Linked DNA regions of Homo sapiens. The protein of the gene in region 2 interacts with the protein of the main gene of each other region in a pairwise test. Each region holds a gene or a part of one and is shown on either strand. Other genes may lie near its edges. The genes, in order: OLFM2, KRTAP10-3, ACY3 and BRME1.

Region 1 (8,011 bases), on a different chromosome or scaffold from region 2:
AGGACCTCTAAATAATATATTCAGGGATTAGCAAGAGCAAAGGTATGTGTTGGCAGGCATTCACTTCATGATCATTTTCTCTATGAAGTGGGTGGTGCAGGGTGTGAGGAAACAGATGTGGGCTGTGAGAGGGTGACAGGAACCCATGGCTGTCCAAGTTCCTGTCTAATTGGCTGTCCAAGTGCCAATTAGAAAAACCCAATGGCCAGATGGCAAGATCCAACGCCCTGCCTCCCTGCTTCCTGTCATGGAGAATGACCTGTGCCCAGTGCCAGACCCTGAGTCCCCAGTTCATCCATTTTGCCACAATAGATCCTTGAGAAGCGGATCCTGATGTCTCTTCAATGATGGCCCACAATTCTGACCACTGCACCATAGACAGTGCACTCTTCTTAACATTAACCACAGTGCTGACCTTGAAGCTGATATCAGTGCAACTAGGATGCTGAGTGTGACTTTGACCTTAGTATGACTCAATCATAATTTTGACCATAGCTTGGCCAGGTCATTATCCACAGCAAGCTCAGGACAAGGACCATAGCACTAGGACAGAGCACAGCATAACCAGGAAACTGACTGTAGTACTAATCACCACACTGACCACAACACAACCAAGAATGACCAGGAGTGACCACAATTCTGACCACAATGCTGACCCTGGCAGAACCAGGATGTTGACGGCAGCACAGATCCCGGTTCAACAGGACACAAACCACAATGCCATCAGGACACCCAGAGGGCCACTAACCATACCAGTCAACGACCAACGGCATCGAATGCATTGACTAAGGTCCAGTCAGAAAAACAGCCCATCCCAGCAAATTCAATAGAAAGAATTTAATATGGGGACTTTAATTAGCCACACACTGAGGTATTAGGTAGGTAGGTTTGTTTGTTTGTTTGCTTTTGTGGGGTTTTTTGAGACAGGGTCTCACTCTGTTGCCCAGGCTGGAGTGCAGTGGAGTAATCATAGCTCACTGCAGTCTCGACCTTCTCAGGCTCAGATGATCGTCCCACCTCAGCCTCCTGAGTAGCTGAGACTACAGGTGTGCACCACCATGCCTGGCTCATTTTTGTATTTTTGGTAGAGATGCAGCATCTCTACAGAGATGTTGGCCAGGCTGGTCTTGAACTCCTTGGCTCAAACAATCCACCTGCCTCAGCCTCCCAAAGTGTTGGGATTAGAAGTGTTAGCCATGGCACTCAGCCGATAGGTAGGTTTTGTTTTTGTTTTTTTCTTTTTTGAGACAGAGTTTCACTATTGTTGCCCAGGCTGGAGTGCAATGGCATGATCTCAGCTCACTGCAATCTCTACCTCCTGGGTTCAAGCGATTCTTCTGCCTCAGCCTCCTCAGTAGCTGGCATTACAGACACCTGCTACCATGCCTGGCTAATTTTTTGTATTTTTAGTAGAGACAGCATTTTGCCTTGTTGGGCAGGCTGGTCTCAAACACCTGACCTCAGGTGATCCACCCACTTCAGCCTCCCAAAGTGCTGGGATTACAGGTATGAGCCACCGCACCTGGCCCTATTAGGTTGGTTTTAAGCGCAAACTGGAGCAGGTGAATCAACTCTAGTTGCTAGCTATCATCTTTGCAAGGACTGAAACAACAAAGGGAGGTGGTAGTTACCTGAATCCAGGAGCTGCAGTTACCTGGCCAGTCACCTGCCCCCACCCCCCACCATGGTGGGGAATACCTAATGGGACTGAGACCACAGAGGAGGCACAGCAGCCATGGCTAGAGACACTCAAAGTGGAGGGGGGGAAATTCTCTGGCTTCTCCTTTCTTGGCACCCTCCAATCTGCCTGTAGACCTCCCATTGGCTGAGCCTAACCAGATGCAAAGAAGCCTGGGAAATGTAGTGTGTAGAGAACCTGAGAAAGATAATTTGCAGGAGCCATTGCCCTGATACAGAGGGGAGCAGGGGGAAAGTGGGGAATAGATCTAAGTGCATATCGACCAAATTCCAACCATATAACACAGGCTGTAGCTTAGTTGTAACTGTGATCGTCTTAGTGACCAGAGCCCAAGGAGGACACTGTTCATGGTCCTGAAATGCAGCATTCATGAGTCAAGAGTGCTGACTCTTGACCGTGAGACCCACTCTTGGTCAAGAGCTTGTGGGTCCTACCAACCAATGTCCTCCTTTTATGCAATGCCAACTGCAGGCTTGGCCTGAAGGGCCCACAAAGGACTGTCTCCCATTTGGGAAAAGGAGATAGAAGAATAGGATGGGTGCGGTGGCTCATGCCTGTAATCCCAGCACTTTGGGAGGCTGAGGCAGGTGGATCACCTGAGGTCAAGAGTTCATGACCAGCCTGGCCAATATGGTGAAACCCCATCTCTACTAAAAATATGAAAAATTAGACAGGCCTGGTGGCAGGCACCTGCAATCCCAGCTACTTGGAAGGCCGAGGCGGGAGAATTCCTTGAACCCGGAAGGCAGAGGTTGTAAGCCGAGATCAAGCCACTGCACTCCAGCCTGGGTGTGACAGTGTGAGACTCCATCTCAAAAAAAAAAAAAAAAAAAAGAGATAGAAGAATAAACAGGATGTCTTCGCAGGCTCAGACTCTATTTTGTGTCCACATCCCATGATGAGTGTCCTCAACCCAGTGCATGGTTGGTTATTGCAAGGCGTGCTGGGGAGTGAGTGCTAGCTAGGTGCTCTCTTTGCTTAGAGTCACAGATGTCTCCCAATAACTGCAAAAAACAGGTCTTCTAAGAGGGGGAAAGCTTTTTCCCTAAGGTCACATGGCCAAGAAGTGGCAGCACCAGGGTTGAACCCAGATCTGTGGGTCACCAAGCTCTTTCTCATTGACCTGACAAAACCATCATCGACATGTTTTATCCCCAGTAGGGTTGAGACAGGAATGATCCAGGGTGGTCACAGGCAGCCGTTTCACATGACTAGAGGCTATGGGCTGATAAGATCCTGAAAACCAGGGTGTGGACCAAGCTGGCTAAGACCTACTGGACCCAACATGGCGTTACATTCTACCTAGGTTTCACCTAGGATCTCATTATGTACTCATTAAAATACTAAAATTACCCACCCACCAGCGCCCTTGACAATTCCAGGGACACCCAAATTTGGTGTAAAAGTGGGTGGCACCACAGTCCACCTTTTTCCAGTTTTCATGAATATTCCATCCCTTGGTTAAAGAGATACACAGTGGCCTGTTGTGGTGGCTCACGCCTGTAATCTCAGCACTTTGGGAGGCCAAGGCGGGTGGATCACGAGGTCAGGAGTTTGAGACCAGGCTGGCCAATATGGTGAAACCCTGTCTCTACTAAAAACACAAAAAATTAGCCGGCTGTGATGGCGCACACCTGTAATCCCAGCTACTCAGGAGGCTGAGGCAGGAGAATTGCTTGAACCTGGGAGGCAGAGGTTGCAGTGAGCCGAGATCACACCACTGCACTCCAGCCTGGGTGACAGAGCGAGACTTTGTCTCAAAAAAAAAAAAAAAAAAAAAAAAAAAGAGACACATAAAGGTAGCAGTCCCAAACCACCTTGCCCATCTCTCTCTCTTAAGTACGCCCACTCCCTTTTCTCAAGTGTGGACTTTTCCCTTAACAAAAAAATCTCCGAACTTTTCATGATTTTCTGATTCCTCCTTGAATTCATTCTTGCGATGGTGTTAAGAGCCTGGACACCAGCTGGGGTCGAGGCCCCACCAGCGTCTGGGGAGACCCCTCCTAGCCCAACAGTATCAGGGTCACAAAAATGCCAGGCTTCCTGGCCTCGCATATTTTATGCCCGATTTCTTTCCAATCTGACTTATTTGCCCGCCCCCCTCCTCCACCTCTGCCTACATATATCCGAATCCCTAGAGGGGCTGTGGGGAGGAAAGACGACTAGGGACACTTTTTTTTTTTTTTTTTTTTTGAGACAAGGTTTGCTCCTGTTGCCCAGGCTGGAGTGCAATGGCACGATCTCTGCTCACTGCAACCTCTGCCTCCCGGGTTCAAGCGATTCTCCTGTCTCAGCCTCCCGAGTAGCTGGGATTCCAGGCATGCACCACCACGCCCGGCTAATTTTTGTATGTTTTAGTAGAGGTGGGGTTTTGCCATGTTGGCCAGGCTGGTCTTGAACTCCTGACCTCAGATGATCCACCCTCCTCAGCCTCCCAAATTGCTGGAATTACAGGCGTGAGCCACCGCGCCCGGCCTAGGGAGACTTTTGGAGGAGTGAGAGGCAGAGAAAGGCTGGAAAGCCTCCCGAAAGTGAGGCTAGACAAGGACGCCCTTCATATGCAAATGGCTTCGCGTGGAGGCGGTGTTAATATTTTGATTCTCTCGGGGGATGTGGTCTTTCATCTTGGGCTATTGAAACAGGGAGCGAAGAGAAACTCTTCCAGGTGTGGCGGAGGCGGGGAGGCTTCCAGCGGGAGGACTGGTGGGGAAATGGGGCGCCCGGGGAGAGTGAAAACGAGACGCCCCTTTTTGAGGCCAAGCCCACCCACGTGGCCATTTCCATTGGCCTCTTGCCTGATTCTCGGTCTCCTGTCCCCCCAACCTCAATTTTTTCCTCTTATTCCCCGTCTCCATCTATGCCTCACCCCTCTTGTCCTGGCATTGACCCCTCCTCCAACTTCCAATTTCAGATTCTGCCTCAGTTTCCCTGTTGACTCTTGAGTTTTTAGGGAGGGGGCGTTCATCATTTCCCCTCTCTGCTACCAGGCCTTCCTCCTATTCCTCTCCCCCAACCATTCGTCCCCGTCCCACCTGCAACGTGGGAAATGCCCCCGGAGGGTGAAATTTACAAACACGTGACGGGCACCCCTCCCCCACCTCCGCGACCCGCTCCCGGAATGGCCTGGGGGTTGGGGGGCGCTGCCAAGTCCTGTCCTCAGGTCCCCTCGCCGGCGCTGGCTCCCCCACTTCCCCGCCCCCACCCCCCCACCCGACCCTGCTCGAGCTGCTCCCGAAGAGGAGCTGGGGGCGGGGCGGGGGGCGGAGCCCGCAACAAAGACTCGGAGCGAGCGAGGGGGCGGGGGTGGGGCGGAATCCCGGCCGCCGGCGAGGCGGGGGAGGCGGCGGCGCAGGGTCGCCCCGGCCGGGCGGGCGGGGTCGCGCCTGGTGGCGGTCCCCGCGCCGAGGCGCCGCTAGGGCGGGCGGGGGTCGGGACGCCGGGCTAGGGGCGCGTCATGTGGCCGCTCACGGTCCCGCCGCCGCTGCTGCTGCTGCTGTGCTCAGGCCTGGCCGGACAGGTAGGGGCCCGGCGGGCAGGTGCGGGCGCGGGTGGCTCCGGGAGAGGAGGGGGGCGCGGAGGGTTCCCGGAGAAACGGGGTTGGGAGGCTCCACAAGCCCCCCCAGCTGCAGGGCGGCGAGGGGCGGGGGTCGCAGCGGGGGAGGGGCCGGGACGTGCACTCTCTGGCTTGGGAGAGGACGAGGGGGGCTTCAAATCCAGCCTCAAGCTGGGCTGGTTTGGGGGGTGGCGTCTTTGGGGTTCTCAACCCCTCCATGGCCCCGAGCCCCCACCCCGCCATCTCGCTGGAGCTGAATGGGGTTGGGAGGGAAACTTCAGGGGGCATTGGAGGGGGGCGGTTGCTTACCCTTGACTTCCTCTTCGGGGCCGAGATGCCCAGTTTCTGAAGCCCTCCACTCCTCGCCTGCAGCCCCCAGTGTGGGGCAGGGGACGGGACTCACGTGAGAGTGACTGACGGGGACGCGTGTGAAATGCTGTGGGGGTGCAGGGTAAACGTGTGTGTCTTTGTGTCGTGGTTGGGTGTGACCGGGGGGAGTTTGTGTGTGTGGCGGTTGGGGGGCTTGTCCAACTAGTGCCCGAGTTGGGGTGTGATCAGTACGTGAGACAGAGTCTGTGTGTGACCGTGTCCTCATTACTGGCTCCAGATGACTGGGTGTTGTACAATACGTGTGTGGCCAGGTGTGTGGCCGTGTGAGAGCCTTGGAGTGAGCGTGTGCTATTCTGTACCTTTGGGTAAATCACTCTAAAAGGGTGTGTGTGTGTGCAAGCGCTGTGTGTGCAAACGTGTCCATCCATGCACGTGTGTGTGTGTATCTTGGTGCCTTGCTCACAACCGCACACGCCATTCATACCCTTACAGAAGCGGGTCTCCCTCCCCATGGCACCTTTCTCTTGGGCAGGCTCAGGGAGGCTTGCAAAATGTGGGGCGTCCACGCTCTCTTTTGCTATTGGAAAGCCCCTCTCCTCCTCCATCTTGGGAGTGAGAGCACCCCCAAGTTCTCAGATCTGTAGGAGTTCACAGGGAAGCTGGGATCAAAAATAATAAAATAGTCATTATGATAACAGTGATCATTCATTACGTGCTAATTTGAGAGGTGCTGTTTCAATCACACAGCACAGACTAAGGCATTTAACCCCCTCTGCCTCCTCCCTACTAGAGCATGGTATTGTTACCTCATTTTATGGATGGGGAAACTGAGGCGCAGAAAAGTTAAATCACTTGCTCAAGCTCGAGAGTGACAGAGGTGGGACTGAACCGAGGCAGTCCGGCTCCTGAGCCCACACGATTACCCTCTTGTTAAATAATCCGCTCCATGGGTGTGGACAGCGTCCGTGAAGACATTGCTAGGTGGGCTTTTAGGTAGATAGGCAGGGGAGAAACAATTTGGGCACCTTCCCCTTATCAAGAAAAGAATCAGACCCTTGTGCTCACCCCGAGGGGGGTGTTGGGAGGAATGGAGGTTAGACTCCAGATAGAAGGATTTCCAGGCCACGAGGAGAGATTGTGGGGTCCCCTCCCTCGCTCCTCCATTTCCCCACGCATCTCAGCACCCACGCGCTGGGTGGGATAGGGAGTGTGCCCAGCCCCAGGCATGAGGACACACACAATAGGTACTCAATGGATGTGTGAGCCTGAGAGAAGCCAAGAGACACACCTGGGAGACGAGAGACCAAAAGAGGCACACACTTGAGAAACCAGTGGAAAAAAAATGAGCCAGGAATCAAGTTGAATTATCCTTGACCTAGCAGAGGAGACAGAGAACCACCCCCTGTGGCTTCTCCTCCACTCCCTGCTAGGGGGGCACTAGATTTTCTGGCTTCTCACCAAGATTGGCTAGGATGCCAGAGTTTGCTGCCAGAATTGCAATTGGAGGGTGACTCCTACAGCCCCCAGGGCTGGGAGGGAGTTGCTTTGGGGGCGGGACTAACGAGGTCAGTGGAGGCGGGGCTAAAGGACAACGGGGGCGTGGCCAAATGAGGTAATCCGTTAGGGCGGGGCTGGTGGAATCCTGCCGCGGGCTGCAGTGCCTCCAGGCGGCCACCGCGGGAACTACATGGTTGTGAAACAGTCTCGGCGCCCCATACACCCCCTTGGCGTTGGCCCACCAAGCCTGGCACCCCAGGGAAGGGAGGGGTCTGCAGAGAGGATGCTCTACCCACTCTTCGCTCCCTCCATCACTTTCCAAAGACTTCTTCCCTGTCCCTGATGGGCCCAGGGGTCCTTCCTAGAAATCATTGGTTAATCCATTCAATGAACAGATATGATTATGCACTGGGGATACAGCCACCAACTGAGTCATCAAATCCCTGCTCTCCTGGAGTTGACCTAGCAGAGGAGACAGAAAAGAGCCGAATAACCATGTAATACGGTGTCGGCAACTAAATATACATATAATACAATGCAAGTAGCATGAAGAATAACAGATAAAGTATAGAAGATTAGACTGGAGCCGGGTGCTGTGGCTCACGCCTGTAATCCCAGCATTTTGGGAAGTTGAGGCAAGTGGATCGCCTGAGGTCAGGAGTTCGAGACCAGCCTGGCCAACATAGTGAAACCCTGTCTCTACTAAAAATACAAAAAATTAGCTGGGTGTGGTGGCAGGCGCCTGTAATCCCAGCTACTAGGGAGGCTGAGGCAGGAGAATTGCTTGAACCTGGGAGGCAGAGGTTGCGGTGAGCTGCGATCGCCATTGCACTCCAGCCTGGACAACAAGAGTGAAACTCTGTCTCAAAAAAAAAAAAAAAAAAAAAAGATTAGAGTGATAGCAGTCGGGCATGGAGGCTCACGCCTGTAAT
Region 2 (5,828 bases):
CCTTTGTATTATTATTGCCAAATATATTAGATTTCTATATGTTATAGGCCCAACAACACCAAATATACCTTTTTATATTGCTTTTTAAAAATCAGTTAAGAGAATAAAGGAGAAAATATGCATTTGTACTACTTTTTATAATTACATAATTAGTTTTACTGCTGTTTTGTTTTTCTGTGTGGATTTGAATTTCTGTCTGGAGTTACTTGCTTTTGGTCTGCGGAACGCTAGTATGACTCGTAAGATGCATCTGCAGGTAATAGATTCCCTCAGTTTTGATTTATCTGGGAATGCCTTTATTTTGCCTTCATTTCTGAAAGACAACTTTGTTGGATATAGAATTCTTGGCTGACTTTTTTTTCTTTGAGCACTTTGAATGTACCATCATACTACCTTCTGGTGCCCATTGTTTCTGATAAGAAGTGAACTGTTGCTCTTCTTATGGTTCTCTTATAAATAACTTGTTTTTCTCTTGCTGCTTTCAAGATTTTCTCCTTGTTTTTGACTTTCAGTATTTTTACTATGATATGTCTGTTTGCGTATCTTTTGTGTGTCTCCACCTTAGAGTTTTCTGAGGTCCTGGATATGTAGATTAATGTTTTTCAATAATTTTGGAAAGTTACTAATTCTGTGAAGAATGTCAGTGGTAGTTTGATGGGAATAGCATTGAATCTATAAATTACTTGGGGCAGTATGGCCATTTTCATGATATCGATTCTTCCTATCCATGAGGATGGAATGTTTTTCCATTTGTTTGTGTCCTCTCTTATTTCCTTGAGCAGTGATTTGTAGTTCTCCTTGAAGAGCTCCTTCACATCCCTTATTAGCTGTGTTCCTAGGTATTTCATTCCCTTTGTAGCAATTGTGAATGGGAGTTCACTCATGATTTGGCTATCTGCTTGTCTGTTGTTGGTGTGTAGGAAGGCTTGTGATTTTTGCACATTGATTTTGCATGCTGAGACTTTGCTGAAGTTGCTTATCAGCTTAAGGAATTTTTGAGCTGAGATGATGGGGTTTTCTAAATATAGAATCATGTCACCTGCAAACAGAGATAATTTGGCTTCCTCTTTTTCTATTCGAATACTCTTTATTTCTTTCTATTGCCTGATTGCCCTGTTCAGAATTTCTAATACTATGTTGAATAGGAGTGATGAGAGAGGGTATCCTTGTCTTGTGCTGGTTTTCAAAGGGAATGCTTTCAGCTTTTGCTCATTCAGTATGATATTGACTATGGGTTTATCATAAATACCTCTTATTATTTTGAGATATGTTCTATTAACATCTAGTTTATTCAGAGTTTTTAACATGAAGGGATGTTGAATTTTCTTGAAGGCCTTTTCTGCATCTATTGAGATAATCATGTGGTTTTCGTCATTGGTTCTCTTTATGTGATGGATTACATTTATCGATTTGCCTATGTTGAGCCAGCTTTGCATCCTAGGGATGAAGCTGACTTGATTGTGGTGTATAAGCTTTTCGATATGCTGCTGGATTCAGTTTGCCAGTATTTTATTGAGGATTTTTACATCAGTGTTCATCAGGGATATTGGCCTGAAGTTTTCTTTTTTTGTTGTGTCTGCCAGGTTTTGGTATCAGGATGATGGTGGCCTCATAAAATCAGTTAGGGAGGAGTCCCTCCTTTTCAGTTGTTTGGAATAGTTTCAGAAGGAATGGTACCACCTCCTCTTTGTACCTCTGGTAGAATTTGGCTGTGAATCCATCTGGTCCCGGGCTTTTTTTGGTTGGTAGACTATTAATTACTGCCTCAATTTCAGAACTTGCTATAATCTATTCAGGGATTCAACTTCTTCCTGGTTTAGTCTTGGGAGGGTGTATGTGTCCAGGAATTTACCCATTTCTTCTAGATTTTCTAGTTTATTTTGTAGAGGTGTTTATAGTATTCTCTGATGGCCGTTTGTATTTTTGTGGGATCAGTGGTGATATCCCCTTTATCATTTTTTATTGCATCTATTTGATTCTTCCCTCTTTTCTTCTTTATTAGTCTAGCTAGTGATCTATCTATTTTGTTAATTTTTTCAAAAAACCAGCTCCTGGATTCATTGATTTTTTTGAAGGGTTTTTCATGTCTCTATCTCCTTCAGTTCCGCTCTGATCTTAGTTATTTTTTGTCTTCTGCTAGCCTTTGGATTTGTTTGCTCTTGCTTCTCTAGTTCTTTTAATTGTGATGTTAGGGTGTAGATCTGAGATCTTTCCAGCTTTCTGATGTGGACATTTAGTGCTATAAATTTCCCTGTTAACACTGCTTTAGCTGTGTTCCAGAGATTCTGGGACATTGTCTCTTTGTTCTCATTGGTTTCAAATAACTTCTTGATTTTTGCCTTAATTTCGTTACTTACCCAGGAGTCATTCAGGAGCAGGTTGTTCAATTTCCATGTAGTTGTGTGGTTTTGAGTGAGTTTCTTAATCTTGAGATCTAATTTGATTGCACTGTGGTCCGGTAGACTTTGTTATGATTTCAGTTCTTTTGCATTTGCTGAGGAGTGTTTTACTTTCAATTATAAAGTCAATTTTAGAATAAGTGCCATGTGACACTGAGAAGAATGTATCTTCTGTTGATTTGGGGTGGAGAGTTCTGCAGATGTCTATTAGGTCCATTTGATCCAGAGCTGAGTTCAAGTTCTGAATATCCTTGTTAATTTTCTGTCACATTGATCTGTCTAATATTGACAGCAGGGTGTTAAAGTTTCCCACTATTATTGTGTGGGAGTCTAAGTCTCTTTGTAGGTCTCTAAGAGCTTGTTTTATGAAACTGGGTGCTTTTATATTTGGTGCATATATATTTAGGATAATTAGCTCTTCTCATTGAATTGATCCCTTTATCATTATGTAATGCCCTTCTTTGTCTTTTTTGATCTTTGTTGGCTTAAAGTCTGTTTTATCAGAGACTAGGATTGCAACCCCTGCTTACGTTGCTTTCCATTTGCTTGGTACATTTTCCTCCATTCCTTTATTTTGAGCCTATGTGTGTCTTTGCAAGTGAGATGGGTCTCCTGAATACAGCACACTGACGGGTCATGACTCTTCATCCAATTTGCCAGTCTGTGTCCAGCTATTATTTCTATGAAATAATATTTTTCCACTGTAGTCTGACTTTGCCAGGTAGTCCTCCAACAGAGCCCTTAGCCATACTCATCAAAGGTCAGAGGCTTCAAACCCTGCAGCCTATGGGCCCCCACCAAGCACTCAGTGGACCCCTGGCCTAATTTTGGAAAGCCCTGCAGCCTAGAGCATCATCAGAGCCTCTGCCTTTGCCATTTCAAAGATTTAGTAGAAAATAGCGATCATAGAGTGAGGAGATGAGGGATCCATGATCAGAACTTTGGGGGCTTACTAGCGCACAGGTATGGTCCCGGGCACAGGCATGGGCTGATACACACAGGTGTATAGGTATTTGTGAGACAAGGCTCTGCAATCAGACCCTTTTATTTGTACATTTACTATGACAATGTCCAGGAGCCAACAGTAGAACTAATACATTCTGATGACTTTCTGGCCCATAAGGGAAGAGACCTTGGAGCTCCCAAGGACACCATTGCAGGTGATGTTGCCCGAGATGTGAGAGGAGAAGGTGTGAACACTATTGTGCACACCACCGGGGGAAGGCCCCATAACAGTTCAACGTGAAATGAAACAAAGGTGCTTGCCCCTCATCTCCATCCCTACTGTGCTGGGCCTGCAGCTGCCTCCCTGCTCCCCTCTGCGAGCCAATCTCTGCCCAGGAAGACACTATTCCCTCACACCTGCCCCAGGGCTCACCCCCAGCAGAAATATGCCCCATGGTTCCCACTGACAACCAGCAGTGTCAACCCACAGGGTGGATCTCGCCGTGTGGCCAGGCCAACTGAGCATCTTCAAACTTGTCCACAGCAGAACACATCTCTCCCTTTCCTCAAGGCCCAGAAACTGAGGTTCTCCTAACCTCATCCCTCCTTAGGTGTAGAAGTCTTTTTTTAAGTGCAAACTCCTCCTGGGATGGAGCAGAGGGCTGTCAATTCCAGAATATCTCCTAACTGCCACTGTCCCTGCTTCTGCAGTGTGCTTTGATGCAATCAATATATTTCTACTAGTTTATCTCTGTGGACAAGCCCACATTAGGGAAGCCCTAACTCCAGTCAGGAGCCTCACAAACCAGAACATCCACAAACAATGAACCAACACTACTAACACAACAGTGCCTACAACAACAACAAGGAAGAGGAAGGCTTCTCGAAGCCAGGCAGGGGCAGCACAATCAACACAGAGGGGTATAAAGGTTCCGACCACTCAGAGGCCTGGCACGATCACTCACTCACTCCCTCACTCACTCCCACACTCACTCACTCACGTCTCCCCCAGCTCACCTCCTCCCCACCCCAGCATGGCCACGTCTACCATGTCCGTCTGCTCCAGCGCTTACTCTGACTCCTGGCAGGTGGACGCCTGCCCAGAGAGCTGCTGTGAGCCCCCCTGCTGCGCCACCAGCTGCTGCGCCCCGGCCCCCTGCCTGACCCTGGTCTGCACCCCAGTGAGCTGTGTGTCCAGCCCCTGCTGCCAGGCGGCCTGTGAGCCCAGCCCCTGCCAGTCAGGCTGCACCAGCTCCTGCACGCCCTCGTGCTGCCAGCAGTCTAGCTGCCAGCCAGCTTGCTGCACATCCTCCCCCTGCCAGCAGGCCTGCTGCGTGCCTGTCTGCTGCAAGCCAGTCTGCTGTGTGCCCGTCTGCTGCAAGCCTGTCTGCTGCAAGCCCATCTGCTGTGTGCCCGTCTGCTCTGGGGCTTCCTCTTCATGCTGCCAGCAGTCTAGCCGCCAGCCGGCTTGCTGCACCACCTCCTGCTGCAGACCCTCCTCCTCCGTGTCCCTCCTCTGCCGCCCCGTGTGCAGGTCCACCTGCTGTGTGCCCATCCCCTCCTGCTGTGCCCCTGCCTCCACCTGCCAGCCCAGCTGCTGCCGCCCGGCCTCCTGCGTGTCCCTCCTCTGCCGCCCCACGTGCTCCCGCCTCTCTTCCGCGTGCTGCGGCCTCTCCTCAGGCCAGAAGTCCAGCTGCTGACGGGCAGGTCCCGTTTCTCCAGAGTTGTTCCAGGGCCATCTCTGACTTCCGAAAATCCTTGCAGCCCTGAGCCCTGTCTGAGTCTCCTCTGCCCATAGCCACTGCACCTCCAGCCAGCAATGCTGAGCTTTCATGCCGATTCCCTCCAGGCATGCATCTCTCCCACACCCTCATCTCCATGCTGGCCAGCCGGTGGTCACTGTGTCCTGCCCCATGTGAGTGATCAGTCTGTCAACAAATAAAGTCACCAATGTGCCCTCTCAGAGGTCTTTTTTGCATATCTGGCAAACCCTGTGGGAAGAACTTCAACGTGCCGCGTGGGGTGGGAGCTTCGGGACTCTGGCCTTGAGCTGCATCCAGGCTGACAGCACCAGGGGCGGAGGCAGTCCTGACTTCCCGCTGTGCGGGGTCTGCTGTTGTGGGGTTCTCCTGCCAGCCTCAGCGTCTCCAGGCCCCGGGGGTGCTTCTCTGTGAATCCCCCACACCCACCCGGCCCGGCCTCTCCCTGGGCTCAGCTCCTCCCCCTCTCTCCTTCCTCTGCCTGTCTGACCCCCACTCATCATCTTCTCACCAGCCCTCTCTTATTAAATAAAATAAATATTTCTCATTCCTGGAAGACATTTTAGAGCTGATCTCTTATTTCAAATATCTGTGCACGGTCATCCCAATGCCTGAAGTCTCTGTGGGTCCATTTCAGCTTTCTGTCATTTCCACCAGTTCTCGCTCATGGTGTCGTTTCCTTGTGTGCTTCACTGTTTGCAGCTGAGTAACCACCTTTGTCCTT
Region 3 (7,119 bases), on a different chromosome or scaffold from region 2:
GCCAAATATAACCGGACGTGTACATACTACCAGATACAAATAACGATCCTATAGCTTTAACTTTTAAAGGTTTAGCCATGGGTCAGGTAAAATTCACTACTTAAAAGACAGTTCCAACTCTGTCTCCGTCCAACTAACAATTTTAGCTAAAATTTATCTCTCCCATACAGCAGAAGCCCTTTCCTAAATTTTAGGAAGAACACGGTAGAAAGGAGACAGGCAAAAATTTGGCTCTAGTGTCGGAAAACCCGTGAGTCTCTCCCACAGCAATTGTTACCCGATCTAGGGGTTCCCAGATCATAGAGGAGTCCCCAAGTCCCATCACTTCTGGTCACTATTAGCAAACTGTAGCATCTGGTGGGCTGATTGACGGGGAAGTTTCTTTCCCTACCCACTGGGGACAGTTAGGACACTCTAGTACCCAATGGCCCTCTTGTTTACAATATGCACACTGTTGTGTTCTCAAGGGCGGGAGGCCCTTTGGCCGGGCAGTGGGGTCCCTAGGGATCTTACTTATGGCTGATCATCTCCAGTGAACTGTTTTGTTTTTTTGTTTTTTGTTTTTTTCAAGAAAGAGTTTTGCTCTTGTCGCACAGGCTAGAGTGCAATGGCGCGATATCAGCTTACAACCTTCGCTTCCTGGGTTGAAGCGATTCTCCTGCTTCAGCCTCCCGAGTAGTTGGGATTACAAGTGCCCACCACCATGCCTGGCTAATTTTTTATATTTTTAGTAGAGACAGGGTTAGCCATGTTGGCCACGCTGGTCTTGAACTCCTGACCTCAGGTGATCCTCCCGCCTCAGCCTCCCAAAGTGCTGGGATTACGGACATGAGCCACCACGCCTGGCCGCAGTGAACTGTTTCTTGTGTACTGGCTGGTTGTAGCCAAGAGACTCGATGGCTTCTTGTCTTGTGTTGCCTTTTTGTTTTTTGTTTTTTGTTTTTTTTTTGCCCTTCCTGGACCTGGCCACAGTTGCTCAATACCTTAAGGGTAATCTCAACCAATGGAGATGTCAGCATCCCCAGTGTCCCTTCTGCTTTTTGTAGTTTATCCGCATGGCTTCTGCCACTGGAGTCCTGCTACAATTACTGTTTTCCCATATTACCCACCCAGCAGCTTAGAGGCGGGATTGGTGGTGACACAGATCCCACAACTCTTGGCCCACACTCAACTAGTTTTAAAAATATATTGGTGGGGAGGGGCGGGCATGGTGGCTCATGCCTATAATCACCACGCTTTGGGAGGCCGAGGTGGGTGGATCACTTGAGCTTAGGAGTTCGAGACCAACCTAGGTAAGATGGTGAAACCCTGTCTCTATAATATTAGGTTGGTTCAAAAGTAACCGCTGTTTTTGCCATTGAAAGTAATGGCAAAAACTGCAATTACTTTTGTACCAATCTAATTTTTTAAAAATTAATTAATTAAAAAAAATTGGAAGGCATAGATTTCACTCGGCAAGGCAGGAAATCTTGTAACTGCTCTATACTGTGGCTCTGCCGACCGCCCGGCACTGCTCCAGCAGATGCAAACTGCCCGAGATTTTGATGAATTCACTGAAGGAAATAAAGACATTGTGTTTAAAAACACAGCAGAAAGGTTGGGTGTGGTGGCTTATGCCTGTAATCTCAGCACTTTAGGAGGCTGAAGGGGGTGGATCACTTGAGCTCAGGAGTTTGAGACCAGACTGGACAACATAGCAAGACCCCATCTCAAAAAAAAAATTAGCTGGGTGCGTGCCTGTAGTTTCAGCTACTTGGGAGGCTGAGATGGGAGGACTGCTTGAACCTGGAAGTTGGAGGTTGCAGTGAGCCACAGTCGAGCCACTGCACTCCAGCCTGGGTGACAGAGCCGGACCTTGTCTCAAAATTAAAAAAAAAAAAAACCCACTGCAGAAGACCTTCAGAATTGCTTGCCTCTAGAAACCATGCTTTCCTCAGAACATCTAACCCTTCAAAAACTACAGCAGCAGCCAGAACCCACCATTCACGCTGACGCATTCCTTTGTGATAAAGACTTCATTGATTCATTATGTGACAAAGGGAAAATGAGCAGAAACTACTGGGTGGTTCACACCAAACAGAACCTTTAGACCGATTGCTCGTTCCTTCTCCCTCATGGAATTGAAGTTCATTTATCTTCATGCACTCCCTGATCAATCAGGAAAGGCTGTGGCTGACGTCAGCTCCAGGCTCAGCACAGTCTTTATGGGGTGATCTTATAGCTTAGCAGTGCAACCCTGTGGAGTAGAACTGAACGGAGACTTTTGCCAGTTGCAGGAAATGGTCATTAAAAAATACCAGTTTATTCACAGAATAAAGGTGCTTCATGCAGACATCTGTCCCCAGGGTTTCTTCTGCAAAATGCTGATGCTGCTATCATGAATAATGTCTTCAAATATTCTCTTAATGAGGCAGAACAAGCCGGAGCTGGGAATACATTTGTCATAATGTAAGGAAGCAGATCATCATCAGTGACAGTGCCAAGTCTTGAAGATTCTCTCCTGGGTCTTCAGACTAATACACATTTATCTCCCTGGGTTGAAGAAGTACTGTGGGACTATGATGTATACCCACAAAAGGATATTGACAAAGAAGCTCTTTATTTATTTATTTATTTATTTATTTATTTATTTATTTATTTATTTTCTTTTGAGACAAGGTCTCACTGTGTTGTCTAGCCTGGAATGCAGCCATACGATAACGGCTCACTGTACTCACGGTACGATTACCTCCAACTCCCCGTGCTCAAGTGATTCTCCCGCCTCAGCCTCCTGAGTAGCTGGGGCCACAGCTGTGTGTGCCACCACCTGGCTAATTTTTTTTTTTTTTTTTTTTTGAGACAGAGTTTCGCTCTTGTCGCCCAGGCTGTAGTGCAATGGCATGATCTCGGCTCACTGCAACCTCTGCCTCATGCCTCAGCCTCCCAAGTAGCTGGGATTACAGGCACCCACCACCATGCCTGGATAAATTTTGTATTTTTAGTACAGACGGGGTTTTGCCATGTTGCCCAGGCTGGTCTTACACTCCTGACATCAGGTGATCCACTCGCCTCAGCCTCCCAAAGTGCTGGGATTATAGGTGTGAGCCACCGCGCCCACCCTAATTTTTTTTTTTTTTTTGGTAGAGACAGGGTCTCCCTATGTTGCCCAGGCTGGTCTTGAACACCTAGGCTCAAGCAATCTGCCCCCCTTGGCCTCCCAAAGTGTTGGGGTTACAGGTGTGAGCCACTGCACCCAGCTGACAAAGAAGCTCTTGAACAAATTCATTTAATGAGATTCTCTAGCACTAAAATAGTCCTACCTCATTGTAATGTTTTGTAGAGTATCTTATAAAACAATGAAAAAAAACCAGTATTTTAATACATATTTTTCTGTATATTTCCTTCTAGCCTTTGTACATATGATCACATATTTGTAAAAAGTTGTATGTATATATATACAACTTTACCCGCTTTGTGTGATGATATGACAAAAACATTTATCTGAAAAAAGTATTTTTTTCATCAAATGGCAGAGCTCCTGTTTCTGGTAACCCGGGGTATGGCAAGTAGGGGCTCTGGGAGATGGAGCAGCTCAGCCTCCTGTGAAAAATTCTGTTTCTCTAAAAAAGAACAAATTCTCATGCTGGGCGCGGTGGCTCACGCCTGTAATCTCAGCACTTTGGGAGGCCGAGGCGGGCGGATCACGAGGTCAAGAGATCGAGACCATCCTGGCTAACACGGTGAAACCCCGTCTCTACTAAAAATGCAAAAAATTAGCCGGGCGTGGTGGCGGGCGCCTGTGGTCCCAGCTACTCAGGAAGCTGAGGCAGGAGAATGGCGTGAACCCGGGAGGTGGAGCTTGCAGTGAGCCGAGATCGCGCCACTGCACCCCAGCTTGGGTGACAGAGCCAGACTCTGTCTCAAAAAAAAAAAAACGAATTCCCAAAACTAGTCCCACTGTTGTCTACCCAGATCCGGGATCCGGGTTGCCCTTGGCCTGGCCAGAGATGCCTCTCAATCCCCCACGGCACGTAGAGCCAGACAGAAACCGAAAGCAGAGGTGCCCTGCGCTGAAGTCTAGAGATCCCACTGCTAGGTCCAAAGAATTTACCCTTTCAGTCAACCCACGGGGCAAAGTCCACTTTCTTCCCTGAAGGAGCAGCACAGAACAAAAGCTCCAGGCAGCTGCTTCCGCTGTTTCGGGGGTAGGGCGGAGTGACAGCCCCACGGGCCACGCAGCAAGCAGAAGATCCCCGGGAGTCACCCTCAACCCTCTGGGGCCACGTGGGTGAGTTCGCCCGGGGAAGGTGCCGCGGCCCACTGCTTTACCTTAGTGAGCCTCAAGAAGTTAGGATCAGAATCCCAGTCGGCCCCATCTGGGTCGCCAGAGTTTTGTTACCCACACAACGGGTGGGCTCAGTTGCTTGGCGGGTGTTAACTAAAGAGGATTTAATAGGGGATTTTATTTCTTGCAACAAGTAAGGAGAACACCTAGACAGCTCCCAAAGCAGTGTCTCCCCGAGCTGAGGGCTGGGGCAGGTTTTATAAGCATAGGGTAATGAGGCGTGATCTGATTGCATCTTGCAATGAGGTGATGCTGGGAGGCATGATCTAATTGGATGCTGACACAGGGGGGAACCACAGCTCTGACCCCTCTCTGGGTCTCAGTTTCCCCAACTGCAGTGAGGAAATTGGCCCCCGTGATGATGCCCATGACATCACCATCCTCTGCCCTCACTCATGCTGGGGTCTCCATGTGCCCATTTTCAAGCTTGTGCCCGCCCTTTGTTCCTCACTCCCCACAGCTGCCCTTGGCCAGGACTTTCACAGGGTGGAGCCAAGGCCCAGAGAGGGCACTGAATCTCTCCAGGTCACACAGCCTGTCAGGGAGGTGGGGCCAGAGCCAGGTCACACGTGTGCACACAACACACACACACGCACACATGCTCACGCACATGCACGCACACACGCTCTCAAGCACATGCACACATGCACACACATGCACACACACTCTCATGCACACACGCACACATGTACACACACATGCATGCACACATGCACACAATACTCTCATGCACATGCACACACGTACACACGCACACATGCATGCTGTCACACATGCGCACACACGCACACATGCTCTCATGCACACACGCACACATGTACACATACATGCACACATGCACACAATACTCATGCACATGCACACACATGTACACACGCACGCACACACGCATGCTGTCACGTACACATGTGAGTGCACACACGCACACACATGCTCTCATGCACACGCACACATGTACAGATGCACACATGCATGCACACACATGCACACACGCGCACACACTGCCAGGACTGGGGGCTGCTGTTTCTGAGGGTTCCTGGACCCCGTTCTGTTCCATAAACACTCACTGAAATGCAGAAGCTGGACCCCAGCCAAGGGAAGTGAAACTTTCCAGCACCCCTACTGCTGTTCTCCCTAAACTTGGGGGCCCAGCACCTTGTGGCAGGAAGCACCCTGGCCCCCAGCAGCCCCCAAAATAGCTAGGTCTGCCACGGAGGCCCTTCCTTCCTGAGAGGTACCACACCGAGTCAGCAGGATCCCAGCCTCTGTGGGGGTTGGGGGGGCCTTCCAACAAAGACCATGGCCTGGGACTCATAAAGCAGCATGGGGGTCCCTGAGACCCCTACCCCAAGCAAGGAAGGAACAGACCCAGGCCGACAGGCTCCTCTGCTGACTCCCTCTCCCACCACCTGCCAAGGACTCAGTCAAGTCACCCAACCCCTAGAGCTTCAGTCCACACCTGCAAAATGGAGCCGGTGACAGCTGCCCCCAGGGCTGGGCCGGATACAGGAGTTGATGGCATGGCATGGCCCCCTAATGGCAGTCTCTGCCCTCCCTTTGCTGAGGCTCCAGGTGCCAGGAGGAGTGGCCCCTGGAGGGGGCTCATAGGGAGCCCCGGCCCACTGGGGGCTCAGCCTCACACTCCATCCACCCCTCTTGACACCCTGTCAAGATCCCAGCTGCCCTGATGGGAGCCAGGATGACAAATCCCCTGTCCCCACAATCGCCATGCTCTGAGCTCACGAAGCCTTGGGTGTGGAGGGCAGGAGAGCCCAGGCCACACAGAGCTGAGTGTGATCTGGGGCAGCTTCCGAGAGGGTGTAACTTAGAGGGTCCTGGCCACCCAGAGCCCCCCAGGCTGGTGGGCCTGGCATCTGGAGCAGGGCTGGACTGGCCCGGGGAGACCCAGTGTGGTGGTAAAGAAGGCCCAGGATCGATGCCTGGGGGAGGCTCCAGCTCAGGGTCCCAGCACCTGGCATCCAGCAGGCCCTGGCGGAGCAGCTTGCCTCACTCCCCAGTGACTTCGGAACTGGCCTCAGCTCCTCCCAGCAGACAGCTGAGCCTGGTGGGAGGTAGAGGCCCCAGGGCTGAGTGCAGGGGACCTCACCTTCATCCTTCCCCACTTTGCTCTTGAGAGGCAGCAGGAGGGGATGGAGCCACATTGGACGCACTGAGTGCCACCTACAGCCCGCCTCTAGGGCTCTGTGCGCCACCTGCAGCCCGCCTCTAGGGCTCTGTGTGCCGCTGAACAGTCTGCCCCTAGGGTTCTGTGGGCCACCTGCAGCCTGCCTCTAGGGCTTGTGTGCCTGCAGACAATTTTCTGAGCCTCAGTTTTCACATCTATAAAATGAGCCTGAGGGTTGTTCCCAAAACAGGGCAAACCGAGTCATCTGAGTTACACTGTCCTTGAAAATGACTGAAATCCCGGATCAAACATTTTAAAATTTTGCTTAAAGCAACAAAGAGCTGTAAAACTGGGGCTCCACATGGCACCTTTGGGTAAGGGCGACTCAGGAGTGACCACAGCCCTCTCCGGGCTGCAAGGACAGAGGCATGTTGCCGAGGTGGTGAAGGAGGGGCAGCTTGTCATCTTGGTGGCCATCAAGGTGACACCTCTATAGTAACTTTCAATAGCCTGCTCTGGTGGTGACCAAAACCAAGTCACCACCCCACTGCGGGTGTACCTCTTAGTAGTGTTAAGGAAGGTGGCCCCTCTGGGGCCCAGCAGAAGGACGAAGGGCAGGGGCAGGAACTTGCCCGCAGGACCTGGACTCGTTGGGCCGTGGCAGCACAAG
Region 4 (7,025 bases), on a different chromosome or scaffold from region 2:
GCAGGACTCACCCTGCAGCTGGATGATCGCCCAGGGCGTCTCTTAGGCTTCGACCCGCGTGTATGCTCAAGAGCCTGCACACAGATGTGGGCACACAGTCACCCACCCCTGGAGATTCGCCCCCCCCTTGCTTTCCCAGGGAAGCTGAGGCATAAAACTCGTAGAGGGCGAGGAGGAGGAAGTGGGTAGAGAGGTTTGTGGGCGGAAGGTGAAGGAACTGAAGCCTCAGCCCCAAACAGCAGGTCACGGGGCCTCTACAGAATCATTTATTATGGGTCTTCCCAGAAGAAATAAAATGGAAATGGGGAGAAAGAAAACAAAGGGAGCTCTCTTCTCCTCCAGGAAAGAAACAAATTCTGAACCATCCATACTTGGCTCAGGACCCTAAAATTTGCAAATCCGGACAGGATGGGCCCTGCTCAGAGGTGGCCAGCTTCCTGGAGCCCAGGCCCGCTTGAAGTCACTGGGGCTGTGGGAGACACAGTTTCCCTCCCTGAAGCCAAGGGTGGCAAATGACCTTGACCCTGGCCAGGTGAGGCCAGGACCTCACGGCCTCCTTTGTGTTGTCCATGGAAGACCAACTTCCGGGCAACTGAAGGGAGGTTTGTAGGGTCCACTAGGACCCCCTGGAGCATCTTGGAGGAGGTCTGCGGACATGGGGGCTGGGTGGCAAAGGAAACACAGACCTCAAAGTGGCCTACAACTCCCTCCAGGGTGGGTCCCCTCGAGGGATATTCCCAGGCCCCTTGGAAGGGTAAGGCAGGGGGGCTTTGCCTCCCAGCTTTGTCTTCCGGTAGTTAAGGCGCTTGAAAGCTTCCAGGTCCCGGTGGGTGCCCATGATCAGCCGGCTGTGGGGGAAACACAGGCATGCGTGTGGGGCTCAGTGGTCACCAGGTGACAGAGGGGGCCGCGCCTCACAGCCACATGGTCACCAATGACTCAGGTGCACACACACGGCTCACACACGTGCACATAACCAGAAAGGGCCTGTTGTAGCACAGGCTGGGCCTGTTGCAGCCTTTCTTCAGAGCCTGTGTTCTGCAAAGGACGGGGGAGGGGGGCCACGGTGAGGACCCAGCAGCAGTGAGGTGCCTGACCCTCGCTGCCCACCTAGGGGCTTCACACTTCAGTCCCTCCCTGCTCCTCTGAGTCCCCACTGGCCTCCCGCAGACCCTGTGCCGTGAGTCCAAGCCCACCCCGTACTTCAGGTTGGAGAGCTCAACGATGAGGCCACGCACGACGTTGGTGGCATCCTCCATCCTGGAGGCCTCAGAGGCCTGGATCCCCACGAAGGTCCTGGCCAGCAGGGAAGGAAATTGAGAGTGGCCCGACCTCACTGGACTACCAGAGCTCTCCAGTGGGAGGGGCTTCCGCAGGGCCTCGCGCCATCTTTTCCAGGTGTCCAGCCTGTCCTCCTCTGTTCACGACAGAACCCTGATGGCCAACCCAGCTGGCTCCACTGCCCAGCAGGCCCAGAACCCAACCGCTTCTCCCCTACCTGCCCTGCCCTCTCAGGACGCTGCTGCCACCGCCTCCCTATCTCCTGCCCCTGTGGCTTGTCCCCCACAGGCACTGGGGGCTGTGAACTTGGAAACCTAGCTCAGAGGCAAGCCCTCTCCTCCCGCAGCTGTGCACCACCTGCCTGCCCCGTGCCCTCCCCTCATCCCCCGCTTCTCCCCTCCCCTCGGCTCTAGCCACACTAGACTCCTGGCCATTCCTTGAGCACCTCTCAGGATTCTGGAATGTTCTTTCCCAAATGTCTCCTCCTGGTGGTGGCTTCCCTGATTCCTCCTTACATTTTAACCCCTTCTCCGCTGCCTTTTTTTCCCCAACACTCTGCCATCTGACTATCTAATCTGCTGTCTCTCATGTCCCCACACCCCGAATCCCCCAGTAGCATTCAACTCTGTGTTTTGTCCCACACTGCCTCCCCAGCACCCAGGGCAGTGCTAGAAAGGCCAGCCCAGATGGCATTCATATCCTTGGAAGGTTTGGGAGGTCAAGGTGGGAGGATGGCTTGAACCCAGGAATTCAAGACCAGCCTCGGCAATGTAGTGAGACCCCCATCTCTACAAATAATACAAAATTAGCCAGGCATAGTGGTGCGCGCCTGTAGTCCCAGCTACTCAGGAGGATGAAGTGGGAGGATCAGTTGAGCCTGGGAGATGGAGGCTACAGTAAGCTATGATCCTGTACACCAGCCTGGGCAACAGAGCAAGACTCTATCTAAAAAATATCCCGCCAGGCACGATGGCTCATGCCTGTAATCCCACCACTTTGTGAGGCTGAGGCAGGTGGATTACTTGAATCCAGGAGTTTGAGACCAGCCTGGGCAACACGGCAAAATCCCATCTCTAAAAAAAAATATACAAAATTAGCCGGGTGTGGTGGCGGGTACCTGTAATCCCAGCTACTTAGGGGGCTGAAGTGGGAGAATCATGCGAGCCTGGGAGATCGAGGCTGCAGTGAGCTGAGGTTGCACCACTGCACTCCAGCCTGGGTGATGGGAGTAAGACTGTGTCTCAAAAAAAAAAAAAAAATCACGGAAGAGCCAAGGAGCCACAGAACACCTCCCCCACCCCACAGAACAGGTGCCACTCTCAGACACAGGCAGTACAGGTGGCCAGGCGGGTAAGTGGGGGCCACCCGCCCTAAACCCGCCCATGCCCCAGGCTTCGCAGCACCTCCGGGGCTGTCACTATGGAAACTGCTGTCCTGCTGCTCCTGCCTTGGTCACCCTGAGGTGTCTGGCAGCCCCTGGGTCTTAGCCTCTTGTGTGTGTCATTCAGCCTCAAGCCACCAAACCAGACCCGGGGCCCTCTGGGAGCTTCCAGACATCCAGGACGGTGGGGAGGGGAGCTGCATTGGCCCTGGGACGCTGTCGGAGATTCAGATGTGAACCCTCCCGGCTCTTCACTCAAACCACAGCGGGCCGCTCTGATGAACTGCCTCTGGTCCACGTGCAGGTTGTGTGTGTGGCTAAGGGAGGTGGCCAGTGGCACAGCAGGTACAAGTCACAGGGAGTGACGGCAGGAGGCAGGGACAGAGCCGCCCTCTGCTAGGGGAGGAGAAGGAGGAGGAGGGTGTGGGGGCCACACACAGCCAAGGGCTGAGTCCCAAACCCTCCTCCACCCCTGCCAGACAGAAACAGAAACTTGGCCATAAATAATTGATAAGCTGCCGCCTCTGCAGAGAGGCAGGTTCAAGTGCCAGGTAACAGAGAGGGCAGCCACCCAGCGCTGGCTTCGAGGAGGGCTGTGGGAGGGCACGGGAGGAGGGGACAGGCTGCGGAGACCCCGGGCATGGTGCGGGGGAGAGGGTGCCCTCCTCACACACAGCAGGCTGGAGGACGGCTCACTGGTGGCCTGTGGGAGGGAGGAGGTGGTTCGCCTAGGGCAAGAGCCAAGTGGGGAGGGGAGGAGGTGAGGGCAGGTTAGACTCACTCGGGTGCCCGCCTGGTGCCAGAGCTAGGAACAGCTCCAAGATGGTCTCAGCCAACAGTTCTGAGCCCTGTCTGGGTCCCCTCCCCTTCCCAGGGACTCAGGAGGAAGCTTTGGCCCCTCTTCCCAGAGAGAAAGAGCCCACAGAGCCGGAGGCACTGTCCCAGGGCTCCTGGGGAGCTTCTGGGTGGGGAGATGCTGGGTTGGGTGTCGATCACTGGTCACTGTCGCCCATTCTCTGCTTTCGGGGAGCAGGGGAATGTATACAGTTTGAAAGACAGGGCTCAGCTCCCCTGCTGGACTGAGGAAGTCGAGGCCCAGGGAGGGAGAACTGGGGTCTGTCTCCTCCATCTGTCACCCTCCTTGGTAAAATTTGTGAGGGTCCTGGAGCCACTTCTCACCCACGCCACACCTACCTCGGCTGGGCCTTGGCCACTGCAACAGGGTCTCCATTGGCATGTGAGCTGGGGCCCGGCCAGCAAGGGCCCGGCTTGTTCCCCGAAGGAAAGAGCTGGAAAGAGAGCACAAGGTGTGAGTGGTCGAGGCCTGGGTCGGGCAAGCTCTGCACAGGGGAACCAGAAGTCACGCTGATGCTTTTGGCTTCACCGCGGCCACAGCAGGTCACATCGGGGCTGGCTGGGACTCCTGCAGAGGAAGAGCGGTAACGGGGAGGAAATCCACGATGGGTAGACCCGAGGCTACCAGCCTGGGCTGCGCCCGTCCTTTCCCCTTGGAAAGAGAAAGGCCACAGCCAACCCTGGTGTCCGCTCCTAGGCCCGGGCCTCCCACAGGCTGATCTGGGCAGTGGGGGCACCACTGTGCCATGATCTCTGGCCCTGACACCACTGCAGTCTCCTGCATGCCCCTCACTGTCTTTACGGGTACAGAGAAAACACAAAGCGGGGGCAACTGCGGTGAAGTGGAGTCGTCTACCTTGGCTGAATGTGCCACAGACATCCTGTTAGGAAAGGAGTTTGCAAATATAACACGAGGGGAAAACTCCCAGTGAATACAGGGGAAAGCCTGGTAACTCCACGGCGCTTAAGCTTCTAAGCGTCAATGGTGGTTTAATTTCCATGGAAAATGTTAAGCTCCGTTACAGTGGTGACCTATGATGTCCCTCAGAAAAGAGGCAATGAGCCAGGCTGGGGACACCTGTAATCCCAGCACTTTGGAAGGCTGAGGTGGGAGGATTGTTTGAGGCCAAGAGTTCCAGACCAGCCTGGGCAACACGGCGAGACCCTGTCTGTACAAAAAAAAAAAAAAAAAATTAGCTGGGCATGGTGGCACGCACCTGTGGTCCTAGCTACTTGGGAGGCTGAGGCAGGAGGATCAACTGCTTGAGCCCGGGAGGTTGAGGCTGCAGTGAGCTGTGATTGTGCCACTGCACTCCAGCCTGGGCGACAGAGCAAGGCCCTGTCTCTAAAATTTAAATTAAATGACTCCATATGCAGATTGCAGAAGCTCCATCAGTCCAAGAGTGAGTGCAAAGGATCTATGAGAAAGTAACACCAAACCCTCCCATGACGAGACCTTGGTTTGAGGTTTGAAAGCTCTGTCTCTGCTGTGTCACCTCTGAGTCCCCTCCTCTAGCACAGTGTGTGGCCACAGTGAGGTCAGGAGGAGGTGCTGAGACGGCCCGCTCGATCCATCTTTGCTGTTCCCCGTGCCCCTGCCCATGTTGGGAGACACGGGCCTCGGCCTTCCTGCCGGGAGCCACCCGGAACCTTCCCACGGGAATGTGTTCCTTGCCTGGGTCGCCTCAACTTGCTGGGGAACGCCTCGTGTCAAAGCCAAACACGCCCAGGCCCTGGCAGTGCTGTCAGGGCGGTGCCTCCTCCCCTGGCTGGGGAAAGGCTGCTAATGCTGGTCGGGTTTGACCAGCCTGGCTGTCTGTCTGGATCCCCCCAAGTCTGGATTTCAGGGTCTTTTTCCAAGCTTGCAGTTTGGCAGCCCGTTTAGGAGGGCTAGGGGCTTCACCTGCTGGATGCCACCTAGGCACACCTGGCCCCAAACACCTTAACCATTTCCCAGCCTTCTCTCCAAGCCACCACTCACGAGACCACAGACTGGAGGCAATGGAGGCGGCTCTTCTCTCAAGCGAGGGATTTGCATTTTGCAAGGCATGAAGCTCTCATAAAATTTCAGCTGTGCCCAGCACCAGAACTCCTGCCTTTCCCACATGCTCGTGTTCAGCCTCTACCACTGAACCACACTGTGACTCACTTTTTTTTTTTTTTTGAGACAGGGAGTTCAGCACCCAGGCTGGAGTGCAGTGGTGTAATCTCGGCTCACTGCAACCTCAAACTCCTGGGCTCAAGTGATTCTCCTGCCTCAGCCTCCCAAGTAGCTGGGACTGCAGCCATGCATCCCCATGCCTGGCTAATTTTTTCTTTTCTTGAGAGAGTCTTGCTCTCTTGCCCAGGCTGGAGTGCAGTGGCGCGATCTTGGCTCACTGCAACCTCAGTCTCCCAGGTTCAAGTGATTCTTCTGCCTCAGCCTCCGGAGTAGCTGGGATTAGAGGCACACGCCACCATGCCCAGCTAATTTTTGTATTTTGGTAGAGATGGGGCTTCACCATGTTGGCCAGGCTGGTCCTGCTCTCCTGCCTCGGTCTCCCAAAGTCCTGAGATTACAGGTGGGAGCCACTGTGCCTGGCCATGAATTTTTTTTTTTTTTTTTAACATCTCAACACAGGGACAGCCAAAGAAACAGAGGCTGACATTTGAAAAGCAAATTGGACTCTGCGTTCCAGGACGCGGCGGCTGGGGCATGACCTGGGTGCCAGCCTGGCCTCCTCCCCTCCCACCTGCCTCACCTCTAGCAGGCGCACGAACTCCTCCAGAGTCTTCACTGCCACACCCAGTGTGTGGACAGAGAACTGCCTACCTCCCTGGGCGTGACTGTGATGCCCTCAGCCCAGGCTCAGGTGTGCCAACGGCTAGGGAGGTCGCTCTTTCCCTGGGGGGCAGGGCTGAAGCAAGGCTGCCATCTGCCCAGACAGGAGAATGAACGCCAACGGCTGGCACCGGCTCTGGAGCCAGAGGAGGCCACATCCGGGCAGCCGGTGGGGCGGGCAGATCCCTGAAGGAGGCAAAGCCCTTACACGTTCTGGCAGAAAAACAAAATGACTTATGTATGTTTGGAAAAGAATCATATCAGGACCCCCAGAGGACCCTAAGGAGATGGGCAAAGGCTCTTTTGCAGCTTGGGAGTGAAGCCCCCTCCCCAGGCCCAGGTATAAAGCCATCCCCAGGCCCAGCTTCTCTCCATCTGTGTCTACCCGCCTCAATACATCCCCTGGGACCCCACGGCCAGGGTCAGGCACTGAAGCAGAAGCTGCCAGGGGCTGGCACTCCTGGGGACTCCAGTTCAATGTGGGGGGCCCGGCTGAGAAAGCAGCTGTGTGTCACCATCCCTAGATATGTCGACAACCACCAAAAGGCAGGTCTACACTTTCTGGAAAACCACCGACTCCACACCCAGTAGAGCTGCAACTCGGACTCCTATAGTCGTTGGCTGTGTAAATGGTAAGCCCTGAGCCCCAGCTCCCCCTCTGCCACTGCACCGAGTGAGGAGGGGGCT

The links.
Region 1: the proteins of KRTAP10-3 (region 2) and OLFM2 interact in a two-hybrid assay, tested with the Homo sapiens proteins (2 studies listed by BioGRID).
Region 3: the proteins of KRTAP10-3 (region 2) and ACY3 interact in a two-hybrid assay, tested with the Homo sapiens proteins (2 studies listed by BioGRID and IntAct).
Region 4: the proteins of KRTAP10-3 (region 2) and BRME1 interact in a two-hybrid assay, tested with the Homo sapiens proteins (2 studies listed by BioGRID and IntAct).

The regions. Positions count from the first base shown.
Region 1 is NC_000019.10:9,933,509-9,941,519, reverse strand, and holds the start of OLFM2 (noelin-2 isoform 2 precursor), read left to right. Parts: upstream 1-5,004; 5' UTR 5,005-5,153; coding exon 5,154-5,216; intron 5,217-8,011. UniProt on the Homo sapiens protein: Involved in transforming growth factor beta (TGF-beta)-induced smooth muscle differentiation.
Region 2 is NC_000021.9:44,557,266-44,563,093, reverse strand, and holds KRTAP10-3 (keratin-associated protein 10-3), read left to right. Parts: upstream 1-4,298; 5' UTR 4,299-4,378; coding exon 4,379-5,044; 3' UTR 5,045-5,304; downstream 5,305-5,828. UniProt on the Homo sapiens protein: In the hair cortex, hair keratin intermediate filaments are embedded in an interfilamentous matrix, consisting of hair keratin-associated proteins (KRTAP), which are essential for the formation of a rigid and resistant hair shaft through their extensive disulfide bond cross-linking with abundant cysteine residues of hair keratins.
Region 3 is NC_000011.10:67,647,731-67,654,849, reverse strand, and holds the start of ACY3 (N-acyl-aromatic-L-amino acid amidohydrolase (carboxylate-forming)), read left to right. Parts: upstream 1-4,119; 5' UTR 4,120-4,267; intron 4,268-7,119. UniProt on the Homo sapiens protein: Plays an important role in deacetylating mercapturic acids in kidney proximal tubules. Also acts on N-acetyl-aromatic amino acids.
Region 4 is NC_000019.10:13,882,105-13,889,129, forward strand, and holds the end of BRME1 (break repair meiotic recombinase recruitment factor 1), read right to left. Parts: intron 3,952-7,025; coding exon 3,857-3,951; intron 3,391-3,856; coding exon of another isoform or gene 3,015-3,390; exon of another isoform or gene 2,399-3,014; intron 1,297-2,398; coding exon 1,204-1,296; intron 849-1,203; coding exon 698-848; 3' UTR 244-697; downstream 1-243. UniProt on the Homo sapiens protein: Meiotic recombination factor component of recombination bridges involved in meiotic double-strand break repair.